Linked DNA regions of Homo sapiens. The protein of the gene in region 1 interacts with the protein of each later gene in a biochemical or structural test. Each region holds a gene or a part of one and is shown on either strand. Other genes may lie near its edges. The genes, in order: FGG and ITGA2B.

Region 1 (12,112 bases):
TTAAAAATAGACCGTTGAAAAACTCATAAACTTTAGAACCAAAAAGTGTTCACTTCATAACCCTTGGGTTCAAAAGGAAATCAAGGAAAATTATGAAATACTCAGATTGTAGATAGATCTTTTTTTTTTCCTTTTCATTCTGCTTTCAAACCACAAATTCATGTGTGGATAGATCTTAAAAACACAATGCTGAAATAAAAAAGTAGTAAGTATGATGAAGACTTCAGCAGTGATTGTCAAAGGATTTGTGGTGAAGGACTAGTTTTATTAAAATTCTAATCAGCCACAGACCAGGTTTTTATAGAATTCAATAAAAATAATTACTAAAAAAATGAAATGTTAAAAAGCAATGATATTCAAAATATAGGCCCATATTTTTATTATGAGATTTGAAAGATATAAAATTCTATCTCAGTAAGTATATCAGAACAAATATAACATAGGAAAAAGTTTCTCCCTGCTAATTCTCAATTTTTGTACTTAGTGCAGAAAAGTAACAGAAGTTTCGGGACCAGTATTCTAAGTAACACTAACTTATAGCATAATGTCATTTGCATAATTTAAAAATACATACACACACAAAAAAACCATGATTTATAAGAATGCATACAAATAAAGAAACAAATATCAAACCTATTAAGGTGATTGTTTATTAAGGGGAAGATGGAACAAAAAGGAAATGTGAATAAATGAGAATCAATCAATCAACAGAGCAATGAGAATGATGTACTGGGAGTGTGGTAACAACTTCTGTCTCTGCACGCATACACGCACACACACACACACACACACATGCACAAACACAAAGAGATAAATGAAACGTAGTCTTTCCCACACTCTTGGTCTCTTTCACCAACTTATTTATTTATTTATTTTGAGATGGAGTGTCCCTCTGTTGCCCAGGCTGGAGTGTGATCTTGGCTCACTGCAACCTTCGCCTCCTGGGTTCAAGTGATTCTCTTGCCTCAGCCTCCCAAGTAGCTGGGACTACAGGTGTGCACCACCACGCCCGGCTAATTTTTTGGTATTTTTAGTAGAGACGGGGTTTCACCATGTTGGCCAGGATGGTCTCGATCTCTTGACTTCATGATCTGCCCGCCTCGGCCTCCCAAAGCAGCTTATTATTTTCCATCCACTTTGACTCATCTTACTATCTTTAACTTTTTCTCCCTCTTTGAGCTACATCAAAGTGATAAGAAATCAACGGGTACACATATTTCCCACAGGGTTAAATGTGTATTTTGTTTTCACCCTTTTCATCTGAATAAACTGAAGGTATCTATTATAAATACCTTGGCTAGTTTATACTAATTAGAATCAGAGCAAAAGAATTTTGGATCTTGGAAAGATTTCAACTATGCTGTCCATACATTTATTTTTTCATTTCTCGCTCACTTTCAACCCACCCACAGGTATGAAACAGAATCTTCACAGGTATATTTTAAAATCTTGGTATTTGGTCAGGAAGTCATCACCCTCTCTGTTGATTCAAGAACTCTGCTCTGTAGTTGTATGGTTTAAAGTCACAGTATCACTACACCTGATCTCTTCCTTTGTAGATGCTTCCCTCCATAGGTTTGTCACGGTGTAAGACACTACACATCTGCTTTGCACTTCGCCTCACTACTTTTCAGTGACTAGAGTTTTTCTGTGTCCGGGAAAATAAAGAGGAGGGCTTAGCAATAGTCACCTGTGATTTGAGCTGTGAAAAAAATATATAATCTGTCTCTGGGAGACCCCAAACTCTTTTTTTCACTTAAAAGGTTTTTTTGGTTGATTTCTCAACATAACCCTTTCAATTGCCACTTTATTTGAGGAGACATGATGCAACTGAGTCTAGAAGGGTTTTTCATGCTTTAGTTCTTACTGTAGGCTTTCAGTGCTCACCGCTGGATATTAATAACTAAACAAGTAGAATTTTGAAATTCTTTTTTTTGTCTCTGCCTCACTGGGTTGCAAAGTGAACCACAAAATTAATATGTACTCGTTATAACAAGCCAAACAATGCAGAGATATCTAAAGAAAAAGTTAGTAGCCTCTTTCTACCAATGAATGCTGGATTATTCAACATGCAGATCAAGCTTGTACTCAGGATACCTACAAAAATCAGGAGACTCCTAAATGTTTTTGAAAGAATGCTATATTTGATATTTCAGAAGAAGAATTGGACAAGTGATAATGGGAGACATCAGGAATCTTTAGACTTCCTTATATTTATTTTGTGTTTTAGTATTTTTTTGTTTTTGAGACAAGGTCTCACTCACTCTGTTGCCCAGGTTGGAGTGCAGCAGCACAATCACGGCTCACTGCAGGCTCAATTCCCCAGGCTCAAGTGATCCTCCCACCTCAGTTTTCCTGGTAGCTATGACTACGGGTGTGCACCACCATGCCTGGCTAACATTTTTTGGTATTTTTTATGGAGACGGTTTTACCATTTCGCCCAGGCTGGTCTCAAACTCCTGGGCTCAAGTGATCTTCCCACCTTGGCCTCCCAAGTGCTGAGATTACAAGTGTGAGCCATCATGTCCAGCCATGTTTTAGAATTTTCATGTAATTATATATTGTGGATTGGTTGACAGGAGAACGAGTATGTACAAATAAGGATATATGTCAAGATTATATTTTGTTCATGAAGTATATGTATATACAACTTTACATAATTTTTATTTTAGAATTATTCTTACATCTTAAAATTTCACTTATTTTGTAAATATTTCCATATTCATAAAAAGCTATTGTGCTTATATAATCCTTATATTCTATTTTATTTACTAATAAGCTATCTTGCTTGTCCATTCTTCCACTGTTAAATATTTTCTTAATTTCCTACTAATATGAAATTTACATCTATATTTTTATTTCTGTATATAACTATTTTCTTTTTTAAAAATGATTTTCTTGGGATAAATCACTAGAGTGATATTGCATGAAAACTCATGAATATTGTATATCTCTTTGTAGCTATGACCAGATTGCTCACACAAAGGATTTTATAGGTTCACAAAGGGTAAACTGTATGCATTCTGGCTTTAGAAGTGGTTTGGAGGAGGATGAGATGGTAGCAGGAGAGGCTGGATGTAAGAAAGGGAACAGGAAGTGGGTGATTGCCCTTATCCTGGCAAGAGATGTATCTCAACTACAAAGGTGACAATCGGTATACAGGAAAAAAGTGAATATGATAAATATATAGGAGGTGAATTCAGCAGGCTTGATGAGTAATTGGATATAGGGAGGTAGAAATTGGATATGGGGAGGAAGATTGGAGGATGAGTCACTGTTTTTTTTGCATTTGAGGACTGGATGGAGTAGAACAGGTTTGGGAGAGTGGAGAACACTAAGCATACCATGTACTATATCCCCAAATCCAACACAATGGCTACCACAAGGAAGGCATTCAATAAATGTTAATTGAATAAGTGCTTCATGCATACATGTATATATGAAGGCTGCAAACAATGAATCAATGTTTCTATTTTCCAAAGCCTCCCACGTCTTCGGTTGTATATCTAGAAGCTGACTTACTGTTTTTATCTCTTCAATAGGATATCTTAAATTCAGCACTCCTGATAACAAGAAAGTGAAAAGATTAAGAAGGAAATTGTGGGCCTGGCATGGTAGCTCATGCCTGTAATCCCAGCACTTTTGGAGGCCGAGGCAGGAGGATCCCTTGAGGCCAGGCATTTGAGACCAGCCTGGGCAACACAGTGAGACTCTTTCTCTACAAAAATAAAAATTAAAGAAAAATTAGGCAGGTGTGATGGTGCACTCCTGTAGTCACAGCTACTCGGGAGGCTGAGGAAGGAGGATCACTTGAGCCCAGGAGTTCAAGGCTGGCTGCAGTGAGCTACTGTTGTGCCACTGCATTACAGACTGGGTGACAGAGTGAGACCCTATATCCAAAAAAAAAAAGGAAAGGCAAGAAGAAAGAAAGAAGTGTGAAAAGAAAGAGAGTGCAAAGCCAAAGCTCAGGACTTCGGAACAACCAGACCCACCTCATAAAATTAGCCAATTACTTCCCACAGTCAGCCTTTTGCTAAGTTATGTAGATTTAGCTATTCCTTAGAAAGTTGGCGAATGAACCTGAACTCAGGCTGCTAAAAAGTCAATATCCCTGAATCAGAAGGAAGAGATGGTTCCATTCAGCTCACCTCATGACTAGTGAGAGATAGGGCAAATAGCTCCCTAAAGCTCTCTGCTCTGAGTTGCAGTCCTTTCAGAGTGACCAGGTCCCACCACAGGTGTTTGGAGCTAAAAGGTTCTGCTGGGAGACTCCCCAAGCAGCTTTCCTGTCTCCAGCTGCACTTTGGATACTATGCATCTTGGTTGTGTGGCTGTGACTCCTGCTTAGTGATTATGTTCTTGTATAGAGTATTGTCAGTTTGGGTTGCTGTATTTTCCTGTATTTGTCCTGTATCTCCTAGAGGGCAAAAGCCATAATTGCTATTTCCTTTGTAACTCCCAAAGAGTTAGGCATAACATTTAGCATAAAATGAGGACTCAATTACTACTGATGGTTGCCCAATTGTAATTGGTAAATTGGCAAAAAGTGGTGGTTTTTAATGGTCAATAAAGGTACCATGTATCTAGTCTTAGGAAACAAAAGGTTTATTGAAATGCATGTAGATAAATTATCATCAGCATAAAACTGTTATGGAGTTTTCAACATGGGGTCTTTTGCTCTTAAAATGAAGTGAAGCTTTGCAAGTCCATTGTCCAATAGGAAAAATATTATATCTCTCTGTTCAGATAAAGTCCTTTAAAAAAGTAAATCTCTTTTGAAACGGTCTTTTAAACGTCTCCAGCCTGTGAATATATAACAAAACAAAAACCATATTAAAAAGACATAATTTTCTCCATTTAAAAAGAAGAATTAAATAGGAATGATTTAGGGGTAATAAACAAGGAAAATACCTGGGAATTTGAAACTCTAAAATGTTCTCCTATTTTATTAAGTACATACTAAAATATTTGATATAATGAAAATAATTTACGAAGACAAAATAAATGACAAGTGGTCATAAAAATGCAAATAAAGTCAATCATTTTATTATTATATATTTAGGAACAAAGTTGAAATGTTATCTCCTCAAATAAACAATTTTTAAATAACTCTGATATCAGTAATTTGGAAATACAGTCCTAAATGAGTTTTAATTTCCATTGAAGGCTAAATGTCCTTAATAGAAGACTTGAAATCAATAAATATAGTAAGAGAAAAAAGGAAGAAACTTTCAGAGAATTTCTGAAACTTTGTGGGTCAATAGAAGTTAGCAGTTAATTTTCTACAAATCATCCTCAGGGTAAAGTGAGTCATATTCTGTTTCCGCAGGGTGCTCTGGTCTGACCTGTTTGGCTCCCCCCAGGTGGTGTTGCTGTCCTTCTCCAATTGTGAGTCTGTTGAATGGGATTATCTTCATAGTGGTTTTCTTCATGGAATACCACCGGGTTTTCCAAGTGGCCCAAATAATGCCATTATCATAACCATTAGGAGTAGATGCTTTTGAGTAAGTGCCACCTAAAACAAGTCGTAGATGTACATATCATTATTCTGGAATCTTTTTACCTCTGCAAGTCTATGAAGAGCTGTCTATTACGAAGTGCATTGCCAGTTACATAAAATTTATAGTATTATCTGCTAACTGAAAATATCTCCAAAGATTCCTAAAATATCAATTTATAAAATAAACATATTATTAAACAACATCTGTGCTGTGACTCATAGTCACATCCACACTTTAAATTTATTCACTACTAGTAGGGCTAGAAACCCAAAGTTCCCTAATTGGCCTCTGTCCCTAAGCTTATCCATCCCGGACTCAGCTGCTGTGGACCATCTTTCTTCAGGCAGGTTAGAAGAGAAGGAGCCACAAAATTCCTGATGAGGTCAACTCAGGTTATTTGAAAGCACAATTTTGTTGGTTGATTGAGGAGCTTTAGGAAATGGTTCTGGCATGTTATTTTATGTCTCCATTTTAAAGTGCAGCCTCTGTTGATTTGCCTTCTCCTTGTCCTAGGGAAGCAGATCTCATGTAATTCTGTAAAAGGCTTGTCAGAGCACAACACTGGCATGAACTACAGCTCTGGCATGGCGCCCCGGGTCACACAGATCAAGCATTTTCCCTTAGAGTTTCTTCTCATTATGTGGTTTGTGAGTGCAAAGATAAGTTATGTTTCTCCAATTTAAAAATATTGTGAAAATCAAACTGTTACTTTAAATAAACTGTGCAAAGTTTCCTAGTTGGTGATTGGCTAGGACATCAGGAGGTAAGGTTGCTCATCTTGGTAGATGAGGAGACTATGGTTTGCTACAAGCCCGGAGTGGTTTGGAACACTGGTTTCACTCATCTACCCAGCAGATATGGTAGGGAAGTCCTACTGATGCTAAACAGGTCTGGTCTGACTGTTTGGCTTTCCCAGGGTGGTGTTGCTGTCCTTCTCCAACGGAGAGTCTGTTGAGTGGGATTATCTTCATAGTGGTTTTATTCATGGAATACCACTGGGATTTCCAAATAATGCCATTATTGTAACATGGATCCTTTAGCATCGGTAAGGCTTCCCCACACATAACTGCTGGGTAGGTGAGTGAAACCAGTGTTCCAAACCATTCCAAGCTTATAGCAAACTATAGCCTCCTCATCCAACCCCCATCCTAAAATAAGTGTCTACTGTCCTCAGACTGGTCTCTTCTCTCAAGCTTTCACAAACCCCTGCCCTTACCAGTGCTTGCCTTCTCTTTATTCTGTTCCTCCAAACACCTGTTCACTGCGTGTATCTGACACAAAGCTCATGGGAAGCCAGGTTAATGTGTCAACAAGCATCCATGTAGTAATGTTAATCCATCCAGATCATTTATGTTGTATGTCTAAAGGAGATCCCACAACCCACAGTGCCAGCTATGATGGTGATAGTTTCACATATAATGCCAAACTACTGGATATTTTGCAGCAGGTGGATTTCTTTAGAAGGGCTAATTTTAGGCATGAACTTGGTATTATCCACTTCCAGTTTCAAAGAACTTAGTTGAAATAAAGAACATGATAAAATCCCTACTATCTTTATAAATTATTCTTCATTTCTTCATATCTATTTATTATTTTTTATGAAAATAGTATACACTATACATTAACTTGGAATCTAAGAAAGGAAAACATACCTTGGTAATAAACTCCATTGAGATGGCCAGCGTGACACTTGTTCATCCACCAACCAGATCCATCCTGTTCAGCACAGTTGCCTTCAAACTTATCATTGTCATTGTCCCAGGTACTGAACTGCATGCCATTATGGGATGTGAAAAACTTGTCACTAGGATCATCGCCAAAATCAAAGCCATCAAAGGCATCTCCAGCATCCCCACCAGCGAAGTAGGCATATGTTAGGCGGTACTTGTCAGCTTCAGGTCCCACCTTGAACATGGCATAGTCTGCAGTACTGAGAAGAAGGAAATACAACCATCACATGCTGACCCTCCTCAGGGATCTCAGAAGTTCCCTCTTTCGTAGGATGCTTCCTTGGAATTTTTGACTTTGTTTCTTAAGGCTGAAATTTGCTCATTGAGTGAAGTTTTTTGCAAATCTGGCAAGAGGCAATAGATATGTGAACCAGTCCACAGCTCATTAACACTTCCCGGGATGGGCCTAGAAGCCTTTGAAGCATCTCTGAAAACTAATAATTGCACTCACTTGGATGCTTTTTTGCTTGTTTCATTCTAAGATCAAATCCAGATGTGTAGATGACTCTAATTTCATATTTTCTACTTTTATTGAAATGTTATGTGTTGCACACACATTATCATAGATCACAGAAAGTATCTGACAGTGAGTGACCCTTAATTATTGCACAAAACTTGAAGGAGGTACAGTTCCATTAGCCACTCATAGCACCTGAAGGGTTAGGTGCTAAAGGGATTTTCTTCCTCAAATCAGTGTGGTAGTGGCAAGAAGGAGAGCTTCTGAGGGCATTACACAATCAAAGTCTTCCCTGTGTGGTCCAAAGCATGTGAGCTGAAGGAGTTAGAGAGATTCTTTCCTGGAAAAAATTGTGCAAGTGGACAACACTTCTATAGAGTGGGGGAAAGGATGGGCCTTAATGAATGAACAGAAATTTCCAGAAAATATTTAGCTTATTTTCTAATCTCCAGTGGCTGGGAAATGGAAGGTCCTTTCCTAGAAGAAGGTCTACTGACTATAGCACTTTCTGGATTAAAAACCAACCAAGCAATAAAAAAAAGTCCATGTGTTTGAAGACAATATATTTCACTATTCCTTATACATAACAAGAGGGTTGGATATTTTTCTGCATTTTAATTAGGTAACAATGCTTAAAACCTTCAAATATCTCAAGCAAAAAGAAGCCTCTAGATCATCAAAAGAGCTAGCTGGTTTACTTTTAGGGTAGCTCATGATTTGACAGAATAAATGGCCATCAAGGCACTGAGAAGTCTGAAGAGGCTGTATTTGCTTTTCAACCAGGATAGTTGTTAAGAGGACAGGCTCTAAAGTTAAACTACTTGAGTCTGAATTCTACCTCTACCACTTATCAGCAATGTGACTTTGAGCAAGTTAATCTATAAAATGGGATTAATAATAATACCTGCTTCATGAAATAGTAATTTAGACTAGATAAAATTATAATTTTATGCTCAATTCCTGGGACTGATTAAAAGTTCAGTAATTAGCTATTACTCTGAATGGTTCCAGGGTAATTAGATTGTACCAATACACTTAGATTCATCCTGAATAGAATTTACCTTTTTGGATTGCCCAAGAACCAAACAGACTCCTGGAGAAAATGGTGGCTGGATGTGCTGTTTGCATTTGTCAGGCTGCATTTGCCATTGTCTATTGATAGTTGGAAAGTGCACATTCCAGGCAATCTTTACAATAAAAAGTTGGAAGTCATTTCAAAACAGTACCTGGTTCTGCCATTCCAGTCTTCCAGTTCCACTCTTAATGCATATGGGATGGCAGACTGTGTGCTTATCAAATGAATCTTCTCATTTCCCAGCCAAAATTCTGTTGTGCCAGTAGGAGACAGATGTCCAAATCCTTCTTTATATTGAATCCAGTTTTTCTTGAAATCTACACTGCCATCAAGTCTCTAATTACACATTTGCAAGAGCAAAAGGAGAAAATAGACTATCAATGCATGTAAAGAGAATGCTGTCAACATTTTGTCAAAAATACAGAGCACTGGTTCTATCAACTCCCAACTAAGTGATCTTGGCCAAGCTACCTCAGTTTCCTCATGTATCAAATAGGAAAAATGATGGTTACTTCTTAGGGTTGCTGCAAGGATCATGAGAGAGAATATAAGAGAAATACTTAAGAGGGTTTCTGGCACATCATAAATTCTAAATGAGTGGTAATATTAAAAAGACACCTAGACGACTTCAGAACTCTAGCTGGATATTACTGATTCTTACACTTATGATGGAACCCATTGCTCAATCGGTGTCTGGCAACTAATGCTTCCACCATTCATTCCCTCTGAGCGCCCCCTGTAGAAACAGTTATAACAGTGGTGGGAGGTAAACAGAAAGTAAAGGAGCCAAGATTCCTAGTGGGTATCAGCAAGTGGCAGATGCAACACAGGTTCCTTGTCTTGGAGCAGCCCAAGTGTATCCTCTGGTGTGTGAAAGGGTGGTGATGGTGGTGGGGTGGTGGGGGGTGGTGTTGGGCTTCCTCATCTTGTGATGGGAAACCTCAGGTCTTGACCTACCTGACAAAAGAGTTTCCTTCTTTTTATTTGTCACTGTGGTACTATGATTATGTGCCACCATGAATCTACAAAGTCAGTGCCAGTACAATATAGAGTCAAGTCACAAACTCTGAAACTATACTGCCTAGGTTCAAATGCTGACTCTGTTGCTTATTAGTTATGTGGTCTTGGGCAAGTTATTTAACCTTGTGTGCCTCAGTTTCCTTTTCTGTAAATAGGAGTAACAGAAGTACCTTCCTCTTAGGGCTATTGCAAGGATTAAATGAGCTACGGTTCACAAGGTGCTTAGAAAAGTATCTGCCATATGGCAGAAACAATGTAGGAATTTATTAAATACACATGGTGGGGAAAAAATTACCTTCTGAAACACAGTCCATCCATTTCCAGACCCATCGATTTCACAGTAGACTAAGAATTGCTGGTTAGCTTTCAGAGGTTTAATAAAGTAAAGCCCGCTCTGTTTAGCTCCCTTATTGGCAATGTCTTGACAATCTAGAGAAGGAGAATCGACTTTTACTGTGGTTTGAAATGCAGGTAAGACTGTGCCAGCCTTGAAAAATAGCTTTTAACATGTAGTAAACTATTCATTTTCCAAGAATAATTTTCTTACTTTTCACATCAGCATTCCTTTTAAACTGTTTTTTTTAGCTATTCAAGAAAGGTCTAGACAACTGAAATTCTTAGACTTAATGGGTAGCCACTTTCTAAACTATTCCTATACTTTCCAGTACATACTTTCTCCTTTACATTACTTACTTTGATGAACCTAATCCCAATATAACCTTCATCAGTTACCTTTCCCAGTGATATCATGGATTTGCACCGTGTCTTTGCAAGGTTCCTGGCACTGTGCTTCAAGCTGGGCTACCTTCTCTTTCAGGTTAACAATCTTTTGATTATTTGAATTATATATTTCCTGCAAATATCTACAAACAGAAACATAAGATAACAAAAATAAGAAGACAAAAATAAGTATTCCTTTCAGAAGAGTAATTTTATATTTTCTTTGGAAACTGCTAAGTATTTTCTTAAGAAGTGCTTTCTGATAAATTATTCCATTCTTGAGGAAAATGTAAAATTATATTACTAAATTAACATGAATTAAAATTATAAACTTTTTGAAAAAGAAAAACAAATCAAAAAATCAATTAAAACAGGAATACAATGTGGACCTGAATCTTTTTACTTAGAATGGGGCATATTGTCTCAACTCCCAACACAAATAACAAAGTCCTTGTCAATAAGCAAATGTCATTGACATTTTGCTTTTTACTTTATGCATAAGGGACAGCAGATAGCAACCTGCAAGAGTGGCGGGACTGGTTAATAGGAACACCCCCTGATGCTTTAGAAGCAGGAAAAGCTCAGTTCAGTAATTCACATGTGCTGAAGGAGTATACCTTTCACTTGTGGATCTACTGAGGCTATACATATAAGCTTCAATCTAAAATATAACTTACACAGGGACATGATCTGGAACGTTATTGTATGTAAAATAAAACAACAGATACTTCCCCTTTCTTCTTTAATGCTTCTGGTTACATAGCTTTGGGAATGGACTGGGGGAAGTAAAAACCCTCCTTTTGTAGTTACTTACAGGGTGGCTTGCAAATATCCAAAAATGATAGAAAACTGTCTACAATGCATAAACCGTTCTTTCTTTGAAGTAAAAAAGGGTAGACAAACTATTTGTCCACGTTTTCCCTCTACCTTGTCTTAGGCAATTTCTGTACAATAACCTCCTTCAACTTCAATGATGGACAATAATAATGCAAGTAATAATAATAACAATAATAACAAGGGCCCTCTGATAGCAAAAAGAGGAGAAATCTTTCCTGGGCCACTTCTCCCTAGCTACTATTTATCTCAATTTCTCAAGCTGCTTTGAGAAAAATTCAGAAAAAAAAATTGGGGAAAAATATTAAAACTGTATCTGAGACCTTATGTTCAGAAAGTTTATGAGTCCCTGAGAAGCTTTAACAGAGACATTCACTTCCAAATGAAGGGAAGAGACTATGCAGGTTCATTCTGCAATGATCAATATGAGCTTTGCAATATTTGCCACACTTAGTCTCTCAAGACATGTTTCTTCCTGCTCCACATTCAATATAATTTACTTTAGGAGCCAAAATCCTTACTATGCCTCTGCTTGCTAATTTTTTTAACCACCAATTTGTCAGCATTTTTATAAAGAGGATTTTATTTTCAACACCCAAATTCCTATGAGATTGATTTTATGTTGTAAGATAAATGGGGGATGGGGAAAAAATTTTTGATAAATATGGTCAAACTAGCATTTGAAGACATCTAGAACATCTTTCTTCAATGTGATTATTAATAAGCAATTATAACCCAGTATAATTTATATTGCACTAAAAACTTCTATCTCTAC
Region 2 (8,944 bases), on another chromosome or scaffold:
GGTCCTGCACCTCCCTGGCCTGTCCCTGCCTGTCCCTACCTGCTCCTGCACATGGGTGTCTCCATGCAGCACGACAGCAGGGGCCATTCCAGCCTCCGTGGGCGGTAGGGACACATTGAGGCTGAGCACAATGGGGCTCAGCTTGTCCCGGAAGTCTGCCTCATCCTAGGACAGGGGCAAGAGTCAGGCCATCTTGCTACCATACACATCCCACCTTCTCCTGGCCAGTAGGCACCGTGTCCTGACCACCCCCGGACTCACAGCACCCAGCTCAGTGCCCCAGGGCTAGATGAACAAGTCCAGTGGGTAAGTTCTACTCTCCCAGCCCTGCCAATCCCCTGCCTGGGCGTACTCGAAGGAAGGCCATGGTGGTGTGGCAGATGGGGCTGTGCTTTCCGCCCAGATCCAGGTTCAGGGTGGTGCCTGCCTGTTGAGAGCCCAGCAGCAGCACCCGCCGGCCCTGGCGGGGCTTCTGCCGGTCCAGCTGCAGCTCGGCATTTAGGGCTGGCAGGGCAAGCAGAAGAGTCAGGACCTCCCTGGCCAGCCTCCGGGGGAGTCCAAGCCCACCTCCCTCCTGCCCCCTTCATGCCACTCACATAGCTTCTGAGGAATGTTGTGCCCAGTGGCTCCAACACACATCTGGATGTTGAAGCTGCAAAGACGTAAGTGGGGCTCAGGGGTTGGAGCCTTTCTGAGGTCCCAGATCCTTTAAGGCCCATGCCCTCTGCCTCCTCACCAGCTCACGGGTGTCTTGGTCTGAGGTAGGACACAGCTCTTCACAGCAGGATTCAGTGAATCTTGCACCAGTAGCTGGACAGAGGCCTTCACCACTGGCTGAGCTCTGATGGGATAGGGTGATGGGGTAGGCTTGCCATTGTGGCTCCTCCTGGCCTGGCCTCCTCTTGATGGCACAGGACCTTCCCCATCCCGCCCCTGGAGCCAGTGCTCACCTGTACACAGCCACCTGGTTGGCCCCGTAAGCTCCCACGATCAGGTCTATAGACATCGAGGAATGGGTCAGAATTGGCGATTAGGGCATGGGATCCTCATCTCATCTTCCCAGGGGTTCCCCACACCACCTCCCCCACTGGAGGTTTCACCCAGCCCCTCTGGCAGTCCATAGTGGGACACCAGGCCAGGCATGAGCCCCTGGCCGTGTCTCTTGGCACTTCCAGCGAATGTCCAAGGGCCTTTCTTGGGCATTTCTAGCTGGAGGCAGTCCAGGGCACCTGGGTATCCGTTGTCATCGATGTCTACGGCACCTCGAAGGGAGAAGCCAAAGGCAGAGCCTGTGGGGAAGGGGCTGTCCAGGACCTGGGAGGGACGTGACCTCAGCCCCTCACTCTGACCCAGGAACACCAGCACTTGGCCCCGGCCACTGGGACCCCCGTAGGGGGCAGCCACTGCAATGTCTGGAAGGAGTAACAGAAAGGAAGTGGCTGATTGTTATTCAGCCTCCCTAGATGACTGTAAAACTTTCCTGAGCTTCTCTGGGAACATCCCAGGAGACTAGGAAAGGGGTGCAAAGTGTGGGTGAAGGAGGCACTGCCCTACCCTCCAGGAGTTAACAATCAGGTGGGAGAGGGACCTGCCAAGTAGGATTGTTATAAAAACAGTGACAACTCTCACTGTCTATTGAGGAAAATATATCCTGAAAATTAAGCATCATTATTCCCTTTTCTAAATTTTTTTTTTTTTGAGATGGAGTCTCGCTCTGTTGTCCTGGCTGGAGTGCAGTGGTGCGATCTCGGCTCACTGCAACCTCTGCCTCCCCCGTTAAAGTGATTCTTGTGCCTCAGCCTCTTCAGTAGCTGGGATTACAGGCGCCTACCACCATGCCCGGCTAATTTTTGTATTTTCAGTAGAGACGGGGTTTCACCACATTGGCCAGGCTGATCTCGAACTCCTGACCTCAAGTGATCTGCCCACCTTGGGCTCCCAAAGTGCTGGGATTACAGGTGTGAGCCACCGTGCCCAAGCCCCTTTTAAAATTTTTTTATTTTTAAGACAGTCTTGCACTGTCATTCAGGCTGAAGTGCAGTGGTGCAACCATGGCTTACTGCAGCCTCAACCTTCTGGACTAAAGCAATCCTCCCACCTCAGCTTCCCAAGCAGTTGAGACTATAGCCACCATGCCCAGCTAATTTTTAAAAATTTTTATGGAGACGAGATCTCCCTATGTTGGCCAGGCTGGTGTCAAACTCCTAGGCTCCAGTGATCCTCCTGCCTCGGCCTCCCAAAGTGCTGGGATTCCAGGTGTGAGCCACCGTGCCTGGCCATCTAGCATCTATTTCTAGCCTTCTCCATTCCATCAAACTCCCAGACCCCCCACACTTCCTTCAGCAGGTGACGTAATCTCTTACTTCAGGAAGAGAGGCAGCCCACTGTTATGCTATAATCCCACACCAACTTTCTTTTCCCTTTCCCCATTTGACCCTGGAAGAGGTTTCCTTCCTTCACCCTGACACTGGGCCAGTCACCCTCCCACCCCCTGAGGCATCACAGGGACTCTCTGCTGGCTCATCCCCCCATTTCCCCACAACATCATTTTCAACCTACTACATGTTCTTCCACATTGAAATAATCTTCCCTTGACCCTCATCTCTTTTCTGTGATCACCTTTTCTCTTTTTCCTCTTATAGTCAAACATGTTTTTTTTTTTCCTTTCTATTCCTCAAATTCCTTTTTACCACAAACCTGTTGAAAGAGCTGTCTACATTAGCTGCATCCAATTTTTCATCTCCATTCATACCTTACCCCATTGCATTCTGGCTTCTGACCCTATCTTGGCCTGAATCAATTTATGTCACTGTCACCAATAACCTCCCCTTCTTTTTTCTTTCTTCCTTTCTTTCTCTATTTTTTTTTTTATTTTGTTGAGATGGAGTCTTGCTCTGTCACCCAGGCTGGAGTGCAGTAGTGGCGCAAGCTCAGCTCAGTGCAACCTCCACTTCCCGGGTTCAAGAGATTCTCCTGCTTCAATTTCCCAAGTAGCTGGGATTACAGGTATGAGCCACCATGCCTGGCACCCTCTTCTTGCTAAAGCCCATGAATATTTCTCCAGCCCCACCTAATTGTATCTTGCAGCAGCAGCAGGAGCTGCAGCGCCCACTTCCTCCTGTGCATGCTCTTTAACGCATGCTCTTCCTTGAGTCCCGGGCCATCAGACCCCCTGGGTTCCCTCCTCCCTCTCTGGACACTCCTCTGTCTCCTTCTCAGACTTACCTCCTGTAGGAGTCACCTAAATGCTTTTGCTCCCTAGGGCTCTATCCTGGGCCTCTTATTTCACAGGTCCCGGGACCTCATCCACTTTCCCCAAACCCCTGTCTCCCATTCAGATCTCTCTTGTGGAAGCGGGGAGAGCCACTCCCAACTGTTCTTTGGATATTTCCGCCTAAAGCACCCAAGCCCTTCAAGCTCAACAGGTCCAGAGCTGAACTGCTGATCTCCCGCCTCTCCCCAGCACCTGCTGCACGGCCTGAGTTCCAGGCAGTGGAGGCCATCACAGGCACCCAACTCCAACCTCTCCCCTGGCCCCACATCCAGTCTCCCACCAAGTCCTAATAATCCGAGTCCTAAATATCTGTGAAGTCACTCCCATCTCTAACTCCACTGCCAAAATCCACATCCAGGTGGTCATTGTCTCTTGCTTGGATTAAGGCAAACACTTCCTAATTAGTCTTCAACTCTCCCATCTGCTCTCCACTCAGCACCCCATGTGTCTAAGCCACATACTTATATGCTTAAAACCCATCCTGGTTCTGGCTGCCCTCAGGCCAACTCCATGCTTTTTGAGTGGCTGTTAACCCCTCTGCAGCAAGTAGGGCTCCTCTCTTCCCTCACCATTGTAGCCATCCCGGTCGAGGTCGCCCAGGGGTGCGATGGCAGAGCCGAATCGCCCATAGAGCTGTGTGCCAGTCAGCAGGAGGCTGGGGGCACCCAGCGCGTGGGGGCCTCGCGGCTGCAGGAACAAATACACACGCCCCACTTCGGCCAGTTTTCGGTCTGCCCGGCTCTCCATATACAGTGGAGCGCCCACCAGCAGATCATGCCTCCTGTGGGCCAGATGAGTGGTTACATGGGACTGGACCAGGGGTATATTGGGGCTAGGGCCAAATCTCCTCGACCCTTGCTCTCCTGTTCCTCCAGTGGATACGTGAGACTAGGGCTAGGAAAGGGAGACAGAGGGCAGCTCTGGTAATTTGGGACCCAACTGGGTAGGGGTGGGGCATGTCCCTCCTCACCCATCCCCGTTGACGTCAGTGACAGCCACTGAATGCCCAAAATACGACGCCATCTGCAAGATGAGGAGCACCATCATTCACGCCGCTGGACAAGCATCCTCTTTAAGAAATGGGCCCTCACCTCCCATGAAATATTCTGAAGTCTCAGTTCCCCCTCCACCCAGCCACGCCCACTGGGACCTGGCCCCCACCTGCTCTCCGCGCAGCCGATGCAGCCTCTGGTAGTAGGAATCCAAAATTTCCACCTGCACGGACAGCGCAGGCGAGAGCATCATTCTTGTACCCAAAGCAACCTCCCACTCCAGGTGAGAAAGGGTGGTTTGGTGGAGGCGGGGCGGGGGTGGGGGGCGCTCAGGAGTTGTCAGCCTGAGAACTGGGATAAGGGGCTTCGGGAGGCCCAGTGGTGGGGGCACTTACCGCTCCCAGGGTCCAGCTCCAAGTGGGGGCACCGACGACATATTCTGGCGATAGGGAGAGCCAGGCTCAGGGAATGAGAGCCTTAGAACCTACCCACTTCCCGCTCCCCGTTCTGCACCCAGGGAAAAATGTGTGTGCAGGAAGATTTCCCTACATAGGGGAGATTTCAGGAAGGCGCTCCTCCCCGGGCTGGGCTACCCAACTCCCGCCCTAAGTGGATTTCTTGCCTGTAGTGTTGAGATCCCCGTCGAACTCGCCCACGGCCACCGAGTACCCTGAGGACAAGGGCGCAAATTAGTCTTTTCCAGGGGAGGAAGCACAGAGGGGACGGAGGGCAAAGAAGGAGGAGATTAAGGCCACTCAGCCCCAGCCCTGCATTGTGCAGATGGAAAAACGGAGGCCTTCGAGGGGCCAAGCCCTGCCCCAGGCTGCGCTACGAGTCCGCAGTGGAAGGGAGCGGTGGGCGCATGGGAGGTGGGCGGTCTGCGGGGAAGCCGCAGGAGCGGAGGGCGGGAGCGGCTTAGGCGGTGGGTTGGCCGGCAGGGGTGGCCATGGAGGCTCCCACAGGGGCAGGACCTGACCGTCTGCGGTGGGCGGTGACCCTCGGGGTGCTGGAAGTCTGGAATGGCGGTGTTACCCCAGTAGCCGTCGAAGTACTCTGGGTTGCTGGAGTCAAAGGAGAGGCTCTGGGAGGACACGTGCCACAAAAGGATGCCTGGGCGGTAACTCGAGAAAATATCCGCAACTGGAGCCTGGGCCAGGAGACCTAGGGCGGGAGGGACAGCGGGTGTGAAGCCCAAAGCGGTCTCCTTGGGCCGCGAGAAGGGAGGGAGGTGTACGGATGGGCACGTACCTAAGAAATAATAGCCGCCAGGAGCCCCAAGCACCAGCTCTCCGGCCTGGAAGGGAAGTCCTGAGGGTGAGAGGGGGCCCTGTTTGGGAGCCGCCCCCACTGCGCTTTTGCTCCCTACTCGCCTGAGTGACCACGGAGCTGAAGCCCGCTTCACAGTAACGCTTGTCCCAGCCTGCAGGAGACAAGGAGGAGGGGTCAGCGCAGGGGTGAAGGGAGGCGCGCGCGAGCCCGGAGGAGGGCTGGGGGACAGGGGCGGGGCCTTGAGTCGGCGGGGCCCTGGGGCGAGGCCAGATCCAAAGCAAGGGCTGCGGCGCTGGGGGCGGGATCCGATGGGGGCGGGGCCAAGCCGTCGCGAGTGGGCGGGGCCAGGTCGTAGCTGGCGCTTACTAAAATCATTTTCCACGTAAATGCGGCTCAGGGTGTTCCCGCGACAGGGGGAGTACTCGGCGCGGCGGCCGCTCTCTGGCTGAGCCAAAAAGCAGCTACCTACGGGCGTCTTCTCAGCCTCCTCAGTCTTTTCTAGGACGTTCCAGTGCTGCCAGGGGGCGCAGGCCTGGAGAAAGGCCACAGGAGTGGGGACGGGCGCGAGACTTGGGCTCCTCCTGGCCCCAGGTGTCCCTGCCCCCGATTGTTCCCTGTGCCCTGTACCGCGGGGCCCACCACAATGACGTCGCTCCAGCTGACGACCGACGCCCCCAGTCCTTGGCGGGCCTTGAAGGTTTGTAAAGTTTGGGAGCCTACATTTCGGGTCTCATCACCTGGAAGGCACAAGAAGGGGTGGGGCGCTGAAGCCCGGCAGTCCACGTCCCTCTGACCCCAACCTTGCTCTCCTTGCCTGGGACTCACGGAGGTCAAAGAGCAGCGAGGGGCACTGGCCGCCCTCGGCCCTCCAGGGGCACAGGAACACGCCGCCCGTCTCCTCCTGGCTGGGGCCCAGGGTCCGCGGGGCGCCCACCACGATGGCCACTCTGCATAGGAAAGCTGGGTGAGCGCCGCGCAGATTCCAGCGTATCCCAGGCCCTGGCGCCGGCGCTGGGAGCACTGCCCGGAAGGCCATGTGGCATGGGGGCACTGGACCATCTTTCCTCAATGACACCTCACAGACCACCGTGATGTACTTCTTCATCTTATGGACAGTGAAACCGACTCTCAGCGAGGGCAATCACGTGGCTAAAGTAACCCAGTGAGTTGAGAGTAGAGCTGGGACTATAACCATTTGGTTTGATTTGAACACCAGGGGTTTGAGATCTTTGCTGAAAAAGACCTAAACTCTGTACAACACCTCCATCCTTCCACCCGCAACAAGAACCAGCGGTTCACATGCTCCCTGGAATGCCTGCCTAGACTGTTACCAGATCCCCTCTTGAGAGCTGGTTTTAATGAGGGAAGGTAGCGGGTACCTCTAAAGTGGGGCTGGAGTGTGTGTGCTGATAGGAGGACCCTAGCAGATCTAGGTTTAAATCACAATTCTGCCATATGTGAAATAGGAATACCAATTTCATAACCAATGACTGGTTTTCACAACCAGTCAATGCTGTCAGGAGTAAATGTAATAAATACGAGTAACGGTTAGCATGGTCCCAGCCAAATACATAACAAACGCTCTTGAAACAATGCTATAATTTTAAAAAATAATTTTGTTGTTTTGAGACAGGGTCTCATTCTGTTGCCCAGCTGGAGTGCAGCAGCATGATCACAGCTCACTGTAGCCTTGATCTCCAGGGCTCAAGCAATCCTCTCCCCTCAGCCACCCTAGTAGCTGGGACTGCGGGTGTGCAACACCATGCCTGGCTAATTAAAAAAAATTTTTTTATAGGCTGGGCATGGTGGCTCACACCTGTAATCCCAGCACTTTGGGAGGCCAAGGGATTACAGGCGTGAGCCTCTGTGTCTGGCCCATAATATTTTTTTAGCCTGCAGGATGTTTAAGTAGTGCCAATGGGATCACTACTTATAGGAGGGGAAATCAGCAGGAGTGGGCACAGGAAGGAGTTGAGCTGATTCAGGCCCAATGACAGCATTCGCCAACACCCCACGAGCTTTGGAACTAGAATGACCCTTCAAAATTGTCAGAGTTGGCCGGGTGTGGTGGCTCACGCCTGTAATCCCAGTACTTTGGGAGGCCGAGGCAGGCTGATCACCTGAGGTCAGGAGTTTGAGACCAGCCTGGCCAACATAGTGAAACCCTGTCTCTACTAAAAATACAAAAATTAGCCGGGCATGGTGGCATGCACCTGTAATCCCAGCTACTCGGGAGGCTGAGACAGGAGAATCGTTTGAACCCAGGAGGCAGAGGTTGCAGTGAGCCGAGATCACCCCATTGCACTCCAGCCTGGGCAACGAGAGCGAAACTCCATCTCAAAAAAAAAGAAGAAAAAAAGTCTGGGCATGGTGGCTGAAGCCTGTAATCCCAGCACTTTGGGAGGCCAAGGCGGGTGGATCACCTGAAGTTGGGAGTTCGAGACCACCCTGACCAACATGGAGAAACCTCGTCTCTACTAAAAATACAAAATTAGCCGGGTGTGGTGGCACATGCCTGTAATCCCAGCTACGCGGGAGGCTGTGGCAGGAGAATCGCTTGAACCCGGGAGGCAGAAGTTGCGGTGAGCCAGTGATTGTGCCATTGCACTCCAGCCTGGGCAACAAGAGCGAAACCCCATCTCAAAAAAAAAAAAAAAAAAAAAAAAAAAAGAAGAAGAAGAAAAAAAGAATTGTCAGAGTTGATGAAAGAGGGCTGGACCCTTATCAAATGCCTCCCCCACACCTGCCTCCACTCTCCCCACTCACCCACTTCTCATTGATCAGACACTGGATGTGGGCCATCTTGGGAGGGGACTTGGAGTGAACTGGCTCTCTTCAGCAGAGGAAATCCCCTAAGTGGCTGACACTTGAAGGCTATCTGCCATTGCCACCCATTGCCACTCCCTGAAGCTGGTGGGCACAGTGTCTCTCACAATAGTAGCTCAGGGTACACGCTATGAAGAGGAGGAGCCAAGACTCTAATCTTGGCACTCTTGATTCTGAAGCCTGATCAATACTAATCATTAATGACCTATTGCTTCTTTTCAAATATTTATAATGTTGATGGAGATGAGGGAAATGGAACAGAAATGCAAGGTGCGGGAGGGTAGACAACTTTAGTTCTGCAAATCAATTTAGGACATGTGCTCCTCTCCACATTTCCTTTCTTTTTTTTTTTTTTTTTTTTTTGAGACAGAGTTTCGCTCTCGTTGCCCAGGCTGGAGTGCAATGGCATGATCTCGGCTCACCACAACCTCTGCCTCTCAGGTTCAAACGATTCTCCTGCCTCAGCCTCCCGAGTAGCTGGGATTACAAGCATGCGGCACCACGCCCGGCTAATTTTTTTTTTTTTGAGACGGAGTGTCACTCTGTCACCCAGGCTGGAGTGCAGTGGCATGATCTCAGCTCA

What was found.
Region 2: the proteins of FGG (region 1) and ITGA2B interact in a test that uses a peptide from one of them, tested with the Homo sapiens proteins (one study listed by BioGRID).

What each region holds. Positions count from the first base shown.
Region 1 is NC_000004.12:154,599,552-154,611,663, forward strand, and holds the end of FGG (fibrinogen gamma chain isoform gamma-B precursor), read right to left. Parts: intron 10,647-12,112; coding exon 10,516-10,646; intron 10,213-10,515; coding exon 10,079-10,212; intron 9,100-10,078; coding exon 8,915-9,099; intron 7,432-8,914; coding exon 7,154-7,431; intron 5,516-7,153; coding exon 5,283-5,515; 3' UTR 4,804-5,282; coding exon of another isoform or gene 4,789-4,803; 3' UTR 4,620-4,788; downstream 1-4,619. UniProt on the Homo sapiens protein: Together with fibrinogen alpha (FGA) and fibrinogen beta (FGB), polymerizes to form an insoluble fibrin matrix. Has a major function in hemostasis as one of the primary components of blood clots.
Region 2 is NC_000017.11:44,379,650-44,388,593, forward strand, and holds part of ITGA2B (integrin alpha-IIb preproprotein), read right to left. Parts: intron 6,483-8,944; coding exon 6,361-6,482; intron 6,273-6,360; coding exon 6,175-6,272; intron 6,068-6,174; coding exon 5,902-6,067; intron 5,687-5,901; coding exon 5,637-5,686; intron 5,561-5,636; coding exon 5,515-5,560; intron 5,428-5,514; coding exon 5,299-5,427; intron 4,937-5,298; coding exon 4,889-4,936; intron 4,706-4,888; coding exon 4,662-4,705; intron 4,490-4,661; coding exon 4,436-4,489; intron 4,298-4,435; coding exon 4,245-4,297; intron 4,056-4,244; coding exon 3,844-4,055; intron 1,413-3,843; coding exon 1,230-1,412; intron 997-1,229; coding exon 951-996; intron 842-950; coding exon 737-841; intron 653-736; coding exon 597-652; intron 505-596; coding exon 353-504; intron 166-352; coding exon 40-165; intron 1-39. UniProt on the Homo sapiens protein: Integrin alpha-IIb/beta-3 is a receptor for fibronectin, fibrinogen, plasminogen, prothrombin, thrombospondin and vitronectin. It recognizes the sequence R-G-D in a wide array of ligands.